2 separate regions of the Homo sapiens genome follow, and region 2 is linked to region 1. The links come from fine-mapping of genetic effects on gene expression. A gene starts in region 1. The other region holds a variant in brackets. All regions are shown on one strand. Distances are between the middles of the regions.

Region 1 (9,224 bases):
GAACACAATCTTAGTTACCTTCATTTTTTCCCTTCCCTTTGCCCTAGGTCTAACTTGCCATCAAGTCCTGTTGTCTCTTATTTTGAAATGCTCTTGGTACCTTCATTATGTCCATAGCCAGGGACACAGCCGAGGGGGCTGAAATCAAGCTATGCTCATGCCCATGGGGCTTCCCTGCCTGGCAGGAAGTGCCTTTCTTTTGATTCCTCTGTTAGGAGGGAATGGCTTTTTCCCCCCGAAAGTTACAATATAGACTAGAAGTAGCCATGCCCATGGGCCCCCTGAAACTCTAGAATCCTCTAGAATCTGGTCTCAAAGTGCCCACCTATCTCGCCTCAGCTCTCATTGCTCACTCACCACCGCATACTCCTCTCAAGCCAGCCTTCTCACAGCCAGACACGCCTCACCTCTTTGCTAAGCTATTTTCCTCTCCCCTAATATCCTTTCTTCTCTCCTGGACTATAATCAGTCTTCAGGGCCTGGTTGAAGCCTGCTTCCTTATGATCAGCCTTTTCCAGTCTGGACAGTGGAGAGTCAGCAGCCCAAGCTCAGCACTTTGGGCATGAGTCAGTCCCCCACAGGCGTGTAGACTTCATAGCCCTCTGACCCTCACCTGGTGCTGTAGAATTCCAGGATGCAGTCTGATTTGAGACAGGTCTTTGCATTAAACCCCTGCCTGAGTCAGAAAAAAAATCCTCCAGACCTTTTTGCTCAATGGCAAGGAGTTGATCCCCTCCAATATGCCCCAGTCCACTTTTGAGCAGGTTGAAGCGTGAGAAAAGTTTATTTTTCCCATGGGGAAAATAAAAGTGCTTTTCCCTATGCACTCACTTCTCCCAGTGAGTGCTTAGTCCTCACTGAGTCTGGGACCCATGAGAGCAGGGGTTTTTTCTCTCTTATAGCTCCCCTACCCTGGTTCCCACCCTGCCTTCTGTGCCTGCACAGAACTGCTCTGTGGAGACGCAGTGGCAATGCCTAGGACACAGTGATGTTCAATGAATGTCTCTTGGTGGATTACGTAAGAGGAGCAGAACCCCCTTCTTCCTCCCTGGATCTATGTCAGGCTGTTTTGTTTATCTGTGTTCTCCTGCTATCACACCCACTTCAGAGACAATGGAACCCAGACCTAGGGGAAGGAAGGGTTCACCCCAGGTCAACTATAGCCCATCAGCAGCAAAGTGAAGGCCAGAACCCAGCTGGGGACATGCTCTGCTGGAGCTGTGGCCCTGCTGAACATGGGCAGGCTCCTCTGCTTACCTCTTGAGGGCTGTCCTCCAGCTATGAAGGAGCTGGGACTGTCCCATACACAAAACCATTGTCCCAGTGTGCCCAGAGGTTTCTTCAAGAGGGCTAAGGGCTGTGGGCTTTGAATGGAGAGGTGGCTGAGGCTTTGAATGGGAGGGACTGAAGGAGGCAATAATCCCACACCCTCACCCAGCTTCAGAGGAGCTGGTACTGAGGTGGTTGCCATGGTGACAATAGCTCCCTGGTCAGGAGATTTTTTCTCTCTTTCCTCTCCTCCCTTTGCTCTTCCCCAAGCAGCAGCAATAGCAGCAGCAACCAGGTCTTTTCCCTCTTCTTCTTAATGAGAGGCAGGGGATGACAAACAAAGAGTAATCCCAGCTGGCCACCTACAATTTGGAGCTGTCCATGTCAGGATGGGCTGGTGGTCTAGGAGGGACTCCTAATAGAAGGGGCCTGGAGAATGTGTGGGAGGAGGTAGCCTGTACCTAGGCTGGTTAAGAAGGAATGTGTCTTCAGTGAGTTCTAAACCAACCCCGCCCCCCTCAGGTCTCCTCTCTTTAATGTCCTCTTGGTTCAGGATCCTGTTTTTCCATAATCAGCCATAGAACCAGAGTGTCTCAGTGCCAGAAGGCTGTTCAAGTTCATCTCACCCAGTCTACCCTCTCTGTTATACCTCTCCCCATTTTCATGAAGGATCAGAGAGGGGAGTGACTTGGCCAAAGTCAAACTTTGGCTGTACAAGATTTGAACCCAGCTCATCTGCCCTCCAGGTATAGTTCACTTTAGGGCCAAGAGCAATACAGCCCACATGGCACCTTGGCAAGGTCCCCACGGAGCAGCAGGAAGGTGGGAGAGAGGGAGCAAATAGTCATACAAATTAGAAAGACATTTGACAGGCAGAATGAGAGGATTTGGTGCCTGGCTGTGAGGGGGGAGGGAGGAGGTATGGAGGTTGGGGCCTTGGCAGCAACTGGACTGACGGTATGGGTGGTCTGCTGGGGGTGGTGTCTTTGGTTCATCCTCCCGCCAGGATGAGAGATGCCAAATATGGGGCCTCTGCCTAGCACTGGGGGCCACTGGGGAGGGCTGTCGAGACTGTGAGGAGAAAAACTGGGGAAGGGGGATTGTCCCCCCCTCAGGTATGCTGTGGGCTCTGTCAGCTTGAGGGGTGGGATGTGGGGACAGTGTCTGGGGACAACAAGGAGGGAGCGCTCTGTGGAGGGGGAGGCTGTCTTTGGGGGCAGGGGCTCCCTGATGAGAAGTGGCTAGGGGCTATCCGTGGAGGTGGGAGTTTGCCATGGTGCTGGGCAGACAACCCATATCCAAACAGGAGGGAGGGTGACCAGCGCCTCCAGCTAGCACCAGCGCCACCACACCCCCAGATGTGTGTGTGTGCATCTGTGTGTGTATGTGTGTTTGCGCGCGTGTATGTTGGGGGCCATAGCAATGGTTGTTCTCACCTGAGCTGGGGATAAGTAGGCGGCTCTGCCTCCTTCTCTGCACCCATGGGCCTGGACTGAGGTGGGGGGTCTCCTGCCCAGGGGTGGGCTCTTCAGTTGCTGCCGCCTAAGGCGGAACCACGGGTCAGGGAGGTGAATCAGGGCAGGACATGAGGATGGGAAGGGAGAGTGGAGGGGGAGGGGGCCAGGGCCTCCGCCCGGTGGGTTTGTTGCCTTGAGGACCCGGTCCCACTCGCATTACCTGAGGCCGGTCGCCGGGTCGCTGGATGGCTCCGAGCCTCGGCGGGCCGCGGGAACCGAGGCTGGCTCGCGGGCCGGCAGCTGTGCTCTCCAAGGTCTGCGCCGGAGCCGCCTTCCAGCTCTTGTATCACTATGTGCCTCCCGAAGGCGACACTATTTGCATAAGCCCCGCCCCATCCCGGGCAGGTTGCACGGCTATTGGCTCCTCTGGAGCGGAGTGGCAGGCGGGGTTTCAGGTGGGGACCGGGTGGCCGGCGAGGCCCGGCCGCAGGAGCGCGCCCCGCCTGCCCGCGCTGACCTTCCCGGAGTCGCCGGGAAGCGGGAGGGCTGCACCCCCATCTGCACCCCTGCCCTGAGGCTCAGCCCCCGGCTTACAAGTCTGGGGTGGAAAGGGTCGACGATGAAAGTGGATTCTCAAAAACAACCTCACCGTTGCTATGGAAACGGGAGAACCACAGCCGAATCTCTAAGCTTCCTTTCCTGGGCCCCAGCATGGGTGGGGGCGGAAGAGGGGATGAGTCACAAGATGAGACCCCCCCCCACACCCATATCCCACCCGAAATTGGGAGGGGCCAAAGAGGAGCTGGGGAGGAGCTGGGTGGGAGAGGGAGGAGGTGGCTGGTCAGCAGTCCACATCTCTGCGTCCCCCCTCCCCACGCATCCACTCCCCTCACGCCGTGGGGCAGAGAGGAGGGTGCTGGTTGCGCGCGGAGAGCGCGGTATGGGTGGCGAAGTCCCAGCCTCTACCTAGCCCCGCGCTAGTCGTGGGTTCCCTCCAGCCACCCCTCTGGCCCTTCATTCCGGTCCCTCCCCAGACGGGCCCTCCTCCTTTCTCATGGACCCCCAAGAGGCCTCTCGCGTTCTCCCCCGAAGGACCCCTATGCCTAGCCATGGATCCTCCATTCCCCACCCTCCCGTTTTCCCGTCCCGCAGACGGAGCCGGTCCCCAGCCGCCGCCAGTCTCCGGCCTCGGATGTTGACACAAACCCGAGGCGGTTTACACTGAGCGGGTCTGGAAGCTTTCAGGGCCCCGGCAACACCTCCTCCCCGCACTTGGGGGTCTCCCCACAGCCCGGGCCGGCCGCCTGGGCTGCACTGGCGTCTGAGAGCTCCTGACACAAGGCTGTGGGAAGGAACCCTTTTAAGCCAAACTGGGGGCAAAAGGGGAGCCAGACATCCCCGGGCTGGGCCACGTGCGGGGCAGGGACTTCTAAGGATCTGTCGAAAGTCGGGGCGGACGGCTGGGGATTGGCCTAATCGGAGCGCGGACGCTGAAGAGCAGCGGTGAGAGGCGGGGCTTCTGTCCGCGCGGCGAAGGTAGAGGTGGGCTGGGCGGGGCGATGGAGGATGGGGTCAGACCTGCCGCGAGTGGGGGCGAGGCTTCTGGAGCTGGTCCCAGAAATGCCTGGGCCAGGCTCGCTGGGGGAGGAACCCGTGGACGTCCCTTTTCTTTAGGACCTGTCCCGTTGCCCCTTGAAACGGTTTTGCTCTACCATTTTCGAGGCTGCGGACTATGCCTTCTCTCTGCGGCCTTAGCGGGGGCTGAGGGCTCCAAGGAACCTGCAGCTGTAGGAGAAGGCGCGTCCTTGGCACTATGGGTTGGTGACTCATGAAAGACAGGTGTTTGAAGCTCTAACTCTTTCACTTCTCTGATACCTTCTCAGCTCTGGGTCTTGGGGACCCAGAGATGAGCGAGAACCCCCCTTGCTCACAGTTAACCATAATCCAAGGCGTGAAGAAGTGGGGAGAGGCAGCACAGGTTACTAGAAGTGGTATCTGAAACCCTAACATTGACTGACCCAAGTTCATATTGCTAACATTGAGTCTCATTTTTGCCAATGATTCCATTTACGACCGTGGGCAAAACCCTTCTCATTCTGGGCCTCCCAGTCTGTGAAATGTGGGAGCTGGCTCAAGAGGTCCAGAGGAGCAGGGGGAAATTTTCAACCAGGTGGGTGAAGAAAGACTGTCCCTTGGACAGAAGTATGTGGACATGAATCTGACTGCTCCACTTAAGAGTCCTGAGCCCCTTAACAATAGCTAATGTGTATCGAGAGCTTACTTTGTGTCAGGTGCTATTCTAGCATATTATATGTTACCATATAATATAAATTGGGAATAAGTTACTCAATTTATTCCCCATAAGAGCTCTGTGAGGCAGGTTCTATTATTACTCCTACTTAACAGATGAGGAAATCAAGGCACAGAGCGGTTAAGTGACTGACCCAAGTTCACATTGCTAGTAAAGAGAGCTCCAGTGCTGGGATTTGAACCCCAGCAGTCTAGCCTCAGAGCCCACACTCCTAATCAGTACACAATACTGCCTCTTCTTATGGTCCTTCAAGTCCTTAAGGGTAAGGACCTTAGATTGGAATATTTGTTTCTGATTCCCCAAGGTATTAGAAAGGCAAAATCCAGCCTCCTGGGCAGCCCTTCTGTCTCAGGTGAACAAGATATGGGATTCCAGCAGTACAGTAAACTAGAAGTAGTGAAAACAAGAAGCCCTCCTGGGCTCACACCCAGGATTTATGCCTGTAATCCTAGCACTTTGGGAGGCTGAGGCGGGTGGATCACTTGAGGTCAGGAGTTTGAGACCAGCCTGGCCAACATGGCAAAACCCTGCCTCCACTAAAAATACAAAATACAAAAATACAAAAATAAGGAGGCTGAGGCAGGAGAATCGCTTGAACCCAGGAAGCAGAGGTTGCGGTGAGCTGAGATCACGCCACTGCACTCCAGCCTGGGCAACAGAGTGATATACACACACACACACAAAAAAAAAAAAAAAAAAAAAAAAAAGCAGCAGCCCTCCTGAACTGCAAGGGGGCCAGAGTGTGGCTTCTCCTGGCCATCCTATCCTCCAGGCATGACTACCCATGCAGCCTCACCCATGAATCATCTTGGGGCCATGTGACTATTCCTGAACTGCCAGTCATAACCCAGCTTCACCTGTTCATCATACTCAACTTTGAGGCCCTGATATTGGACCCTGCCTCTGTTCCCTTCAGTTTGATGTTTAAAGCAATAACAGCTGACATTGACTGAATTGCCTCACTGTGTACCAGACTATCTGCCAAGTCCTTTATCTGCATCATCTTACTTAATCCAGAAGATGACCACTACTAGGGATGATATTAAAAATATCTAACACTCCATTCAGGCATGAGCGTTATCAATCAGAATGGATACTGGCCTTAGTGCTAGATCAAGGTCTTAGTAGCTCTCTGTTCTGCCAAGAGTTAACACTTAGGTTATTGGATCAGTCAGGCAGGCAGGGAGAAGCAAGCATAGTAAGGAGTCAAAGGCTATGGCTGTTTACCAATCAATTTGGAAGTACTTTTATGTTTTAATAACCAGTTTAGCTGTACAGTGCATAGGGACTGAATTTCAGCCCTTGTTTCATTACTTTATTTCATGGCACAGGATGGAGCCTCAGAAAGGTTAGACAACTTGTCCATTGTAACACAGCTCGTTAGTCAAAGAGCTGGGATTCCCACCTAGGTCTGACTTCAGAGCCCACACTCTTAACCACTGGCTGACTTGTGTTCCTGAGAAGGGGTAGCATCCAGAATTGAGTTGGGATTTCCACTATTATGAGCCAGAGGAATGTGGCTTAAGTTTTGGGGCTTTGTCATGGCCTTACTGTTCTCAGGCTTGGAGTCTTGGCAAACACCTGTTCCACGTTGTTGAAGGAGCAGGCTCTGCAGAATGAGGAGGCAAAATCAAGCTGCACTGAAGGACAGGGTGGCTGTACAGGAGGCCCCACAAAGGGGCATGGAGGGGAGTGAGCCCAGCAGGGTTTGGGTGAGGACAGAGGTCTGCAGACAGTGGCCACTTCAATTTGTTTCATCTAAGTGCTAGCATTCCTCTCCTCCTTGGTCCTGAACAGTGCCTTTATGATGGATAGTGCCTTCCTGATTCCCTGGGTTTTCTCTGCCTTGGCTAGTGCAGCCTCCTGACAGCTGGAATTCCCCTAGGTCTTAGATAGTTCACCATCTTCTTTGTGGCTGGGAGAGAGTGAGATCACCAGAGTTGGATTCCTTCCTTTTATGCTATTGGCTAAGCACGATTTTTTTTAAGAAGTCTCTCTATTATTTGGAAGAAGGAGAAGGAAAAGAAGAAGGAGAAGAGAAGAGAAAGAAAAGAAGGAAGAAAGAAGAAAGAAGAAAGAAGAAAGAAGACAACAACTACAGAGAGAGTGGAAGTTCCCTATAACTCCTTGCATGATAACTGCAGGGGACCTTGTGGTTTTGCCTGTCCTGAATCTATTCCCTCTTATTCTATTGGAGAAGCCATATGTATAATGGGTTAAGTGCACAGACTTACAGCCAGGTTGCCTAGGTTTGCATCCCACAGTTGTCACTTACCAGCTGTGTGACTACAGGCACATTACTTTATCTCTCTGTGTCTCTGTCTCTTTATCTGTAAAATAGGGATAATAAAAATAGTATTGGCCGGGAGCGGTGGCTCATGCCTGTAATCCCAGCACTTTGGGAAGCCAAGACAGGTGGATCACCTGAGGTCAGGAGTTTGAGACTAGCCTGGCCAACATGGTGAAACCCTATCTCTACTAAAAACATGCCAGGCTGGGAGCAGTGCCTCGCGCCTGTAATCCCAGCACTTTGGGAGGCTGAGGCGGGTGGATCACCTAAGGTCAGAAGTTTGAGACCAGCCTGGCCAGTATGGTGAAACCCTGTCTCTACTAAAATACAAAAACATTAGCCGGGCATGGTGGCACACACCTGTAATTCCAGCTACTCAGGAGGCTGAGGCAGGAGAATTGCTTGAACCCGGGAGGCGGAGGTTGCAGTGAGCCGAGATCACGCCACTGCACTCTAGCCTGGGCGACAGAGCGAGACTTCATCTCAAAAAACAAACAAACAAACAAACAAACAAAAAATAAAATAAATAAATTAGCCGGGACTGGTGGCGCACACCTGTAATCCCAGCTACTTGAGGAGCTGAGGCAGGAGAATCCACTTGAACCCGGGAGCTGGAGGTTGCAGTGAGCTGAGATGGTACCACTGCACTCCAGACTGGGTGACAGAGTGAGACTCCACCTCAAAAACAAACAAACAAACAAAAATAGTGTTTATTTTATAGGGCTACTCTGAGGATTAAAATGAGTTAATATATGCAAAGTGCTTAGCACAGATTTTACTTTGAGGAATTACAGTGTATAGTAATAGCACCCTATTATGTACAGTTGTGGTGGAAACTATCAGCTCAGGTGTCTTGCTTTCTCTCTCTCTCTCTCCCCTTCTCTCTCTCTCTCTCTCTCCCCCAAGCAAATCTGAATCTTGAGTAAAGTGACTCAAGGATGTAGATAGTTAGCACTGCTTTATTCCAGAGCAGTGCCCTAATGACCCTGTCTATTCATTCCTGCTATCTGAATCCCGTCTTCTGCTTTTCCTTTGAGTCAGTAAGCCATCCCACATCTCTTCCCCAGATTTATGTTTTAAACTTAGGTTATCTAGAGGTGATTTATGTTTGCTTTCAGGGAACATATATTAATTTGATATATTTCTTTGTCAGTTATGACTTGTTGCAAGGTACAGAAAATCCACCCTATGATGGGTTAGGCAAAAAGAGAATGTAATGGCTTAAGTAAAGAAAAAAAAAACAGAAATAGATTGGACTTTAGGGCTGGCTGGATTCTAGGGCTTAAACAACGTAATTAATACCTGACCTCTTTCCAAGGCTCAGCTCTGCTCTCTTGAGTGTTGGCTTAATTCTCGAGATCCACATAAAGACAAGATATCTGTGGGCATCTCCAGGCCAACATACTGTCAGGTTGGAGTCCCACAGAAAAGAAGAGAGCTTCTCTTTCCCACTGCAGCCAAAGTCCTGGGCTGGCTCTCATTGGCCTGATTTGGAGTCCATGCTAATTTCAGGGTCAATCGCTGAAGACAGGGGTATGCAGTACTCAGATTGGCCAGGCTTGAGTCATTTTCCTACACCCAGAACTGGGAAGTCAAGTCAAGTCCTCCCAAAGCATATGCCCCTGCCACCACACTAGGGAAGGAAGGTGTTCCTTCCAAGAAAGGGGTGAATAGATGCTTGGTGGAGAAAAACAATAGAGGTGCCTAGAGTTTATAAGAACACATACAAGCTGTACTATCAAGCAAGTGGCACTCAAAGGGATAATTAAAGAAAGGTCAATAAGGGAATTATGTACATAGGTACGGTACAGTATGGTTGAGAGAAATCAATGAGGTATTGCCAAGCACCGTGCAGCTAGCAACAGTGGAGATCCAGTACCACCCCCAGGCCTCAATG
Region 2 (10,533 bases), 120 kb before region 1:
GGGAGGCTGAGGTGGGAGGATGGCTTGAGCCCAGGAGGTCGAAGCTACAATGAGCTATTACTAGACCACTGCACTCCACCCTGGGTGACAGACAGAGCAAGACTCTGTCTCTTTAAAACACAACAACACATTTTAAGAGATCTGGGTGCAAACCACGGTGATGCAGAAAACAAAACATTTTCCAAGGCCACAACAGATTTTCAGTGTAGTATGGCATTAAACATATACACCACCACCGTTTAAGTTTTAAAGTGCTCAGCATAGAACAGATACGTAGAAGGAATAGAGTGAATTTATGCTTCTAAAGTGATTAAGTTTCCTCAAGACTAGAGACACTTCTCTGGTCCTCTACTTTCCCCCATCCCAAAAGAAAAACGTGGGCTTTCCAAAGCTAAAGAATAGGAAGGATATTTCAGGCTGAGTAAAGAACAAGGGTATGAAAGCGTGTGCTGGTTACGCTGGGTATGGCCCTGAGATTACCTATGGGAACTTTTAGGATTCCATGTCCAGCATTTTGAAAATTCCCATATCTTGTTCCCCAATTCCAAGATAGTTCTCTGTTTGGTATTTATCTTGTTTTCAAGAATCAATTAATTATTCTGCTAAAATCATTTAATCAATGTTTACCTTGCAGGACAGTATGTTTCCAAAAGCAGAAAAAGTATCATAAAGTGCCTTGTTATCTATAGATTTGTCCAGGTTCTTGATGAAGACGTTTCCCACACCAGATTTTCTCAAAGAGGGATCCCTCTGAGACCACATGATGCGGATTGGCTTTCCCTTAATCACATCAAAGTTCATGGTGTCCAAAGCCCGCTCAGCTGTAAGAGAGAAACACATTTCAATAAGGAGAGAAAACGTCAGCTCCCACAGGCCAACAGCCTAAGAACAGATTACTCCAGGACTTTTCAAGGTAATCACTCTTGATAAAAGGCAACTCTATTAAAATAAAAGGGCATCAGATTCCTCCAGCCTGCACTGTTAGTAAGGGAAGCATAAGTTCCAGCTAATGACTCTACTTCATGACAGAAGTCTAAACACCCTTCTGGGTCTGTGCCCTTGTTGGATAAAGGGGCCACAAGTAAAGATAATCTAAATGGCCTTAATGACACCAAGATCCAGTGATAATACCTCACATTTGACTAAGCTTTACCACTTAGAAGAGACTTTGCAGACTACCACCCACCATGACTCAGGTGGGACAGCTGAAATTATACATTTTACAAAATGAACAAACTTATGTTTAGGGTAACTAAGCTGTGCAGCTAGCTAGTAATTACGAAACTAATACTAGATTATCTGATTTATTTTTCAGTGAGGTATTGCATCAAAGTTATCAAGTCATTTAGTCTGCAATCCACCTATGGAGACAAGTGACAAAACCTGTAAAGCAAATGATCTGGAAAAAAAAAAAAAGGTGCTATCCCTGAATTCAGAATTCAGTCCAGTTTATTTTCAATTTCTGAGAACAGAAATTGACTTAAACAAAAAAGCATCAGTCATCAAAATGGACACAACTGATCACACATGGAAAAGTTCTCTGTACTATCACAAGGATAAAACCACCATACCTTCTGCCTAAGTAGACAGTGCGCAGATGGCAGGCCCTGCACCCACCTTTTGAAGCCTTAATGGAAGTTCTGTAGAATTCTAGGACTTCAGCTACCCTGGGTGCTCAACCAACTTCCCCATCCAACACCTTGGAATGCTTCCTTAGCTTCCCAACCAAGTCCGTGTGTACACCAGAGACAATTTAAAGAACCAAAGGCTGGGCTGGGTATGGTGGCTCACTCCTGTAATCCCAGCACTTTGGGAGGCCAAGGCGGGTGGATTACCTGAGGTCAGGAGTTCGAGACCAGCCTGACCAACATGGTGAAAACCCCATCTCTACTAAAAATACACAATTAGCTGGGCATGGTGGCGGGTGCCTGTAATCCCAGCTACTCAGGAGACTGAGGCAGGAAAATTGTTTGGACCCAGGAGTCAGAGGTTGCAGTGAGCTGAGATCGCGCCATTGCACTCCAGCCTGGGCAGCAAGAGTGAAACAGTGTCTCAAAACAAACAACAACAAAAAGAACCAAAAGCTAAAAAATAACACCACCTGCCAGCCAAAACACTTCTCATCACTAATCGCAACAAGGATGCCCAGATCTGGTGGCCACTTTTCCTTAAGGCTATGATGGCATCTCCTAACGGTGACATCACCCAGAACCTCCTCCATGAGGGGATTTAGACAGGGTCAGAGCAGTGGAACCTGCTCCTTGCCTCAGGACAACATCTCACTTAAAGGGGGGACAAAATTCCCCAACTCTGCCGCTCCACAAGCTCAACTGTTTCATTAGCCGGGAGAATTTATTTTCACTCATTATTTCCAACAACTTTCCCCACCCCCTTCAGAAGGTGGGCCTCATCTGTGTGGGGGGTAGTTGGGAAAAGGGGAGATGACAAGACCGATCCAAGTCAGGAACAGTCCAGGGAAAGAGGACTTTGCTTGTGATGGCTATCAGAGATAGATAGCTGGGATCGCAAACTATTTCATTAATTAGCAGTAAAGGAGCCCACTTCAACAACAGCTCCTCGTCTATTTCCAGACAGCACTGCACAAGGCAAGCCGGCTTAGTCTGACAAATCTGGCTGCACTTATTTATAGCAGGGAGAAGTCCTGCAGAAGTATGTGTTGGCAGACACACTGACCAATAGCTTCTGCTATCTCTAAGTGACACGACTTTTGTTCAAAAGTCAGTAAGGCAGACAACAGCTAATGTGGTACATTATCCCTTAAAAAGACCACACTCAGCTACCTTTGCGCTCCTATGGCCATGGACAGAACTCAGCTTGGAGCACACTGGATTGACAGTAGCAATACCTAGTCCCTCTCAACATGTCCAATTCTCTGGTCTCAGCCGCAACCTGGGCAGGTAGTAACTCTGGGCCTCAGACAGAAAACAAAGGGGGGACCCCAAAACTAGGGACCTGGAGATGCTTTGCCATAGAATGGCTTGTTTCTCCCAGTAATGATCTCTGCAGTTGTTCCCTTTTAATCTGGAGTCACGTGCAGCCTCTGATCAGGTTTCCTCTGGCCTCCCTCCTGCCACGCCTGCAGCATACCTCTCTCCATGCTCCACGCTAAGGCCACAATCTGAGGTGGCAGAGCACTGTGCTGGGAGTCCTAACTTGGCTTCCAACTTTTTGCATTCGTTCTCCTTCTCAGGAGTCCCATTTTCTTCAGATTAGATGAAATAAAAGGGCTCTGACTAGTGCAAAGCACTGTTACAGCTGAGGTGACAAATGACACCAGATTTTCAAGTGACGCTTCCCTAAACTACCTCCACGACACTCTACAGCACAGAGCCTGGATACCATTTGTCCAGAGTAAAGCACTTCTCCACTCCAGTGGCAAACACACAGACCAAGGAGGTGGCCTGGCACACGCAGCTTTTGTGGCACTAACCTAAGTCTCTGCGAAAGTTTAACGCACAGAAACCTTCCCCCTGCTTCCTGCCTGCCCTGACTGATCCTTTATCAGCACAACATCAGGTAGTCAAGGTTAGTAAAGGTGGCGGAGCGGGCAGGAGCTTTACAATGTAAAACTTTCGCGGGGAATTGTGTTTCAAACGTCCCGCCTTTTTGGCCAGCCTGTGAGGGGCACAAGCAAGGATCTCTAACAGCCCAGCCCCACTGACAAGGACCACACGCAGTGGAATGCCAGTGGCTTCACTCTAATCCTGTTTTACAGTCTCCTTGGTTTCCAACCCCACTACCAGCAACACTAATAAGTAGCCCAAGGTCACCCAGTTAGCAAGTGGTAGAAACAAGATTGAAACTCGAGTCATCTGATGCCAGGTCCGCGTTCTCAATCTCCGCACCCTGCTCCCAGCTTCGGTGGCAACATGCTGTCGTGATGCCGCCCTCCTCGGCAGGAGGGCCCTGCCAGAAGACGACTCCCGGGGTCCTCCGGGCTCCCACGCACGTGTGGGCACAGCTTCTACTCACCGTCGGCCGGCTGCTGGAAGTTGACGTAGGCATAGCCCAGGGAGCGGCGGGTGATCATATCGCGGCAGACCCGGATGGACAGCACAGGCCCCGCGGGGCTGAACTTTTCGTACAGCATGGCCTCGGTGACGTCCGAATGCAGGTCGCCCACGTACAGGGAGGCCATGGGGTAGCTGCTGGCCGCAGCGTTCATCTCCCCGCCCCCCACCACCCCGAGCCCCGCCAGGAGGACTTCTTATCGGGCCCGCCGCAGGACAAAGGGGCGCCTTCGGAGCCCGGGCCCGCGCCGCGGCTCACAGGTGGCACCGGCGCGGCGAGGACGAGCTGGAGTCGGCGGGCTTGGAGACGGGACGGAAACGGGAGGCGGGGGCCGGCTCCCACGGCCGCAGCACCGCAGACAAAAGGCTCTCCGCACAATACGGCCCTCCCCGCGACTTTGCACTTCTCCGCGGTCCTGGTGCGAAGCTCCAAATTTCAAAAAATCAAAGTAGGAAAAAAATTAAACGGGGAATCCCCTTCCGAAGGGTAAAAATCCTTTAAGAGGCGACCGGACGCTGCCCACGGCGGCCTCGGGGACACGCGTTTCTCTATAAATATAGGCCTCGGGCTCCGGCGGTTTAAGATTACAACCGCCGGGGCAGAGGGAAACCAAATCTTTGTGGGCGCCGACTCGGCGAGCCCCGGGCGGGCGGCGAAGGGCAGCACGGACACGTGGTGCGCCGGGGCAGGCGCGGGGCGCGGGGCTCGGGGCCCGAGCGGGGGGAGGGCACGGCGGGCCGGGCGGGCGGCTCACCCCCGGACCGACGGACGGAGACCGACGGACGCCAAGCGCTGCGGCGGCG[G/A]GCGCGGGGCAGGCCGGAAGCGTACGAAAGTGACTTCCCCGCGGGTTCTCCGAGGATTCGTTTTTTCTTTTCCTTTTTTTTTTTCAGGATTTTGAAGCGTTTTCAGATTTTTTTTATCTTTTTCTCTTTTTTTCCTCAGGCTGCGAAGCCCGAAAGCGGCGGAGGCGGCAGCGACCCGGGGCGGAGAGAGGCGGCCGAGGGAGCCACCGCTCCATTTATACCCGCCCGCCCCGGGCGCTGCTGGTCGAAGGGCGCCTCGCGACCTGGGCGCAGTCGTGCCCGCCCACTCGGCCCGGGGGCCCGAGGCGGGGCGGCCACGCGAGAGCGACCCGGCGCGGCCGCGCGGCGCTACAGCGACCCCTGGCGCCGGGAGGACCGCCCAGCTCGCGGCTGCGGGAGACCCCAGGGCCCCTTTCTATAACAAATAAATCTTAACACCCTCCCACCCATCACCCGGGAATGGAACCTAGGAGCCATTTAACCTGCACACACGCATGAGGTTTAAAATTAAATGGTATGGGGCTGGGTGCAGTGGCTCACGCCTGTAATCCCAGCACTTTGGGAGGCCGAGGCGGATGGATCATGGAGGTCAGGAGATCGAGACCATCCTGGCTAACGCGGTGAAACCCCGTCTCTACTAAAAATACAAAACATTAGCCGGGCGTGGTGGCATGCGCCTGTAGTCCTAGCTACTCGGGAGGCTGAGCAGGAGAATAGCTTGAACCCGGGAGGCGGAGGTCGCGGTGAGCCAAGATCGTGCCACTGCACTCCATCCAGCCTGGGCAACAGAGTGAGACTCCCTCTCAAAAAAAAAAAAATTAAATGGTATGCCAAATTGTGAAATGAAGGTGACATAAAATAAGTTAAAATAAAATAATAGGTGGTCCAATAGGTAAATGTCTGGGTCCAAATACAATAAAGATTTGAGAAGTTTTCAGGATACCGTTGACCTAGAGGTAGAATCGTCAGGAACTAGAAATGCAAGCAGTATCCATGGGTGATGGGATTTTCTGAAAAGATGAGCACATTTTGGTAAAGCTTCAATGAAACCAAACACAAGCATCCCCTCTATTGACATGCTGGTGGCATTCCCGGACATTTAGTTTGTGTTTAAGGGCACAGAAATACTTTCTGTTCCTATGTTTAAAGTTTCTTCTAGGCTTGGATAATTATAAAAAGACTTTTCATCTGCATGAGAGTCTGGCAGGTCATTTGAAAGTCGTATCACAGGCCAGGCGTGGTGGCTCACGCCTGTAATCCCAGCACTTTGGGAGGCCGAGGCGGGCGGATCACTGAGGTCGAGAGTTCGAGACCAGCATGACCAACATGAAGAAACCCCCGTCTCTCCTAAAAATACAAAAAGTAGCCAGACATGGGGGTGCATGCCTGTAATCCCAGCTACTCAGGCGGCTAAAGCAGAAGAATCGCTTGAACCCGGCAGGCAGAGGTTGTGGTGAGCTGAGATCATGCCATTGCACTCTAGCCTGGGCAACAAGAGCGAAACTCCGTCTCAAAAAAAAAAAAGTCATATCACTTTATAGGACTATGTTATATGGGACTGTCCACACGCATTACAAGATATATAGCATCCCTTCTTCCATAAGTGCCAGGAACCACCTTTGCCATCACTGTGAAAACCAAAAACAGAAATTGCCAAAAGACACAGACATCCCCCTTCAAAAGCACTGATTTAAGTAAATGACTAAAGAAATATGTGTATTTATATATTAATTAATTCAAATAAATGGTTAATCTGAGCCTACTCTATGCCAATGTCAATACAGGGGCTGGAGATACCATGGTGGACCAGAAGTCACTCCCTCTCTCATGGAGTTTATATTCTAATAACTATATTAAATCAAGAAACATTGGCTGGGCACGATGGCTCACACCTGTAATCCCAGCACTTTGGCAGGCTGAGGTGAGCGGATCACCTGAGGTCAGGAGTTCGAGACCAGCCTGGCCAACATGGTGAAACCCCATCTCTACTAAAAATACAAAATTAGCCGGGCATGATGGCACGTGCCTATAGTCCCAGCTACTTGGAAGGCTGAGGCAGGAGAATCGCTGGAACCCAGGAGGCAGCGGTTGCAGTAAGCTGAGATCATGCTACTGCACTCCAGCCTGGGTGACAGAGCGAGACTCCGTCTCAAAAAAAAAGGAACATTTATGGGAGTGCTCCTTCTATAGATTCCCTCCTCAGGAAAGTCTTCCTAGACCTCCTGTGGTCTAAAGTAGCCGTCAACATTGTTAATCACTATCACACCAACTTGTCTTCTTGTCTTCAAGCCTGTTATTCCTACCCAAAATTATGTTGTTCTATATCTGTTTACCTGTTTAGTATCTATCTTTTCCACATTGGTATATAAGCTTCATGAGAACAGGAATCTAGAATAGTGCTTAACATAGCACGTACTAAATGTTCAGTAACTGGCCAGGCAGGTGGCTCACACCTATACTCTCAGTGCTTTGGGAGGCTGAGGCAGGAGGATCGCTTGAGCCCAGACATTTGAAACCAGCCTGGGCAACAGAGTGAGACCCTATCTCTACAAAAAAAAATTTTCTTTTAATTGGCTGGGTGTGGGGACACATGCCTGTGGTCTCAGCTACTTGGGAGTCTGAGGTAGGAGGATCGCTTGAGGCCAGGAGTTGAAGGCTGTAGTGAGCTATGATCATGTCGCTGCACTCCAGGCTGAGCAACAGAGTGAGACTCTGTTACTAAAAAATAAATAGATAAATAAATATTCAATATATGTTTGTGTGTGTGTGTGTGTGTGTGTGTGTGTGTGTGTGTGTTTTCTTGTTTTTTTTGTGGGGGGGGTATGAAATCTTCCTCTGTCACCGAGGCTGGAGTGCAGTGGTGCAGTCTCGGCTCACTGCAACCTCTGCCTCCCAGGTTCAAGCAATTCTCATGCCTCAGCCTCCCAAGTAGCTGGGATTGCAGGCATGCGCCACCACACCTGGCTATTTTTTTTTTTGAAACCAACTCTCGCTCTATTGGCAGGCTGGAGTGCAGTACTGCGATCTAGGCTCACTGCAACTTCCGCCTCCCGGATTCAAGCAATTCTCCTGCCTCAGCCTCCCGAGTAGCTGGGACTACAGGTGCGTGCCACCACACCTGGCTAATTTTTGTATTTTTAGTAGAGATGGGGTTTCACCATGTTGGCCAGGATGGTCTCAATCTCTTGACCTTGTAATCTGCCCGCCTCGGCCTCCCAAAGTGCTGGGATTACAGGGGTGAGCCACCACGCCCAGCCTTTTTTTTTTTTTTTTTTTTTTTGAGACAGAGACTTGCTCTGTCACCCAGGCTGGAGTGCAGTGGCGTGATGTCGGCTCACTGCAACCGCCACCTCCCGGATTCAAGTGATTCTCCTGCCTCAGCCTCCCAAGTAGCTGGAATTACAGGCACCCACCACTATGCCCAGCTACTTTTTGTATTTTCAGTAGAGATGGGATTTCACCATGTTGCCCAGGCTGGTCTCCGACTGCTGACCTCAGGTGATGTATTCGTCTCGGCTTCCCCAAGTGCTGGGATTACAGGCGTGAGCCACACACCCAGCCTGTGTATTTTTTTTTTTGTTTTTTTGTTTTTTTTGAGACTGGGTCTCGCTCTGTTGCCCAGGCTGGAGTGCAGTGGCGCGATCTTGGCTCACTGCAAGCTCTGCCTCCCGGGTTCACGCCATTCTCCTGCCTCAGCCTCCCGAGTAGCTGGGACCACAGGTGCCCACTACCACGCCCGGCTAATTTTTTGTATTTTTTAGTAAAGATGGGGTTTCACTGTGCTAGCCAGGATGGTCTTGATCTCCTGACCTCGTGATCCGCCCACCTTGGCCTCCCAAAGTGCTGGGATTACAGGCATGAGCCACTGCATGTATTTTTTTTTAAGCAACAAAGTCTCACTGTGTTGCCCAGGCTGGAGTGCAGTGGCCTGATCATAGCTCACTGCAGCCTCAAACTCCTGACCTCAAGCGATCCACTTTGGCTTCTTAAAGTGTTGGGATTACAGGCATAAACCACTGCACCTGGCCTAAATATTTGTTAAATAAACAAATGAATACTAGGCACAGATGAGCAAAACCCACACAAGCTCTGACCTCCTGAAGCTTATTGTCTATTGGGGGAGCTTATTACCTATATTACTTTGGGCAAGCTAGTTCACATCTCTGACCCTCAAATTTCTCATCTGAACTATACTAATAAACCTTATTAACAATTAAAAGGGTTATTGTGAGAATAAATGAATACATATAAATACACATAAATTGTTTGGATTAATTTTTTTTTTGAGATGTCTCACTTTGTCGCCCAGGCTGGAATGCAGTGGTGCGATCTCAGCTCACTGCAACCTCTGCCTCTCAGGTTCAAGCGATTCTCCTGCCTCAGCCTCCCTAGTAGCTGGGACTACAGGCATACATCGCCACACTGGGCTAATTTTTTGTATTTTAGTAGAGACAGGTTTTCACAATGTTGCCCAGCCTGGTTGCGAACTCCTGAGCTCAGGCAATCCGCCCCCACCTCAGTCTCCCAAAGTGTTGGGATTACAGGTGTAAGCCACCATGTGCCCAGCCTTGGATGAATGTTAATAGCTATTACTATCAAGCTACATTTGTACTAAGAAAGGAGGCGGAGGCCGGGCGCGGTGGCTCACGCCTGTAATCCCAGCACTTTGGGAGGCTGAGGCAGGCAGATCACCTGAGGTCAGGAGTTCGATACCAGACTGACGGACATGGAGAAACCCCATCTCTACTAAAAAAACAAAATTAGCCAGGCGTGGTGGTGCATGCCTGTAATCCTAGCTACTCCAGAGGCTGAGGCTGGAGAATCACTTGAACCGGGGAGGTGGAGGTTGCGGTGAGCCGAGATTGCGCCATTGCACTCCAGCCTGGGCAACAGGAGTGAAACTCTGTCTCAAAAAAAAAAAAAAAAAGTAAAATAAAAAGAAAGGAGGGGAGTCCCTAAATGAAGTCAGGGAGAACAGCATCTATAAAGGCCCTAAGTGCCAGGCGTGGTGGCTGCCGCCTGTAATTGCCTGTAATTCCAGCACTTTGGGAGGCCAAGGAGAGCAGATCACCTGAGGTCAGGAGTTTGAGACCAGCCTGACCAACATGGTAAAACCCCGTCTCTACTAAAAATAGAAAATTAGCCGGATGTGGTGGCAGGTGCCTATAATCCCAGCTACTTGGGAGGCTGAGGGAGGAGAATCATGTGAATCCGGGAGGCAGAGGTTGCAGTGAGCCAAGGTTGTGCCACTGCACTCCAGCCTGGGCGACTGAGAGAGACTCTGTCTGAAAAAAAAAAAAAAGCCCTAAGGGAGACAAACTGTGGAGTTGTGGGAAATGAAAGAGATGGCCTTAAAACACTTAGGATTTTATCCTCAGATCAAAGAGTAAAGCTGCAGGATTTTAAGAGCAAAGTGCCTTCGCTCAAATTACTTTTTTCTTTCTTTTTTTTTTTTTTGTTTTGAGAGGGAGTCTCACTCTGTCGCCCGGGCTGGAATGCAGTAGTGGGATCTCCACTCACTGCAAACTCCGCCTCCCGGGTTCACGCCATTCTGCTGCCTCAGCCTCCCGAGTAGCTGGGACAACAGGTGCCTGCCACCACGCCCGGCTAATTTTCTGTATTTTTTAGTAGAAATGGGGTTTCACTGTGTTAACCAGGATGGTCTTGATCTCCTGACCTCGTGATCCGCCCGCCTGGG

What was found.
Region 2: its variant is fine-mapped to the expression of HPCAL4 in whole blood (INTERVAL, PIP above 0.99).

Annotation. Positions count from the first base shown.
Region 1 is chr1:39,688,360-39,697,583 of GRCh38, forward strand. HPCAL4 (hippocalcin like 4) reads right to left here and starts at 3,074. Exons shown (of 4, transcript NM_016257.4): 1 at 2,947-3,074. RefSeq lists silencers at 1,350-1,576, 2,851-2,930, 3,151-3,380 and an enhancer at 3,453-4,043.
Region 2 is chr1:39,571,766-39,582,298 of GRCh38, forward strand. It overlaps PABPC4 (poly(A) binding protein cytoplasmic 4), which reads right to left and starts at 5,025. Exons shown (of 16, transcript NM_001135653.2): 1 at 3,994-5,025; 2 at 628-821. The coding sequence starts at 4,186. It overlaps PABPC4-AS1 (PABPC4 antisense RNA 1), which reads left to right. Exons shown (of 4, transcript NR_125979.1): 3 at 690-913; 4 at 1,316-1,438. RefSeq lists enhancers at 3,710-3,829, 3,850-3,899, 4,400-4,469 and a silencer at 4,970-5,279. The variant G/A (reference allele first, on the strand shown) is at 4,836.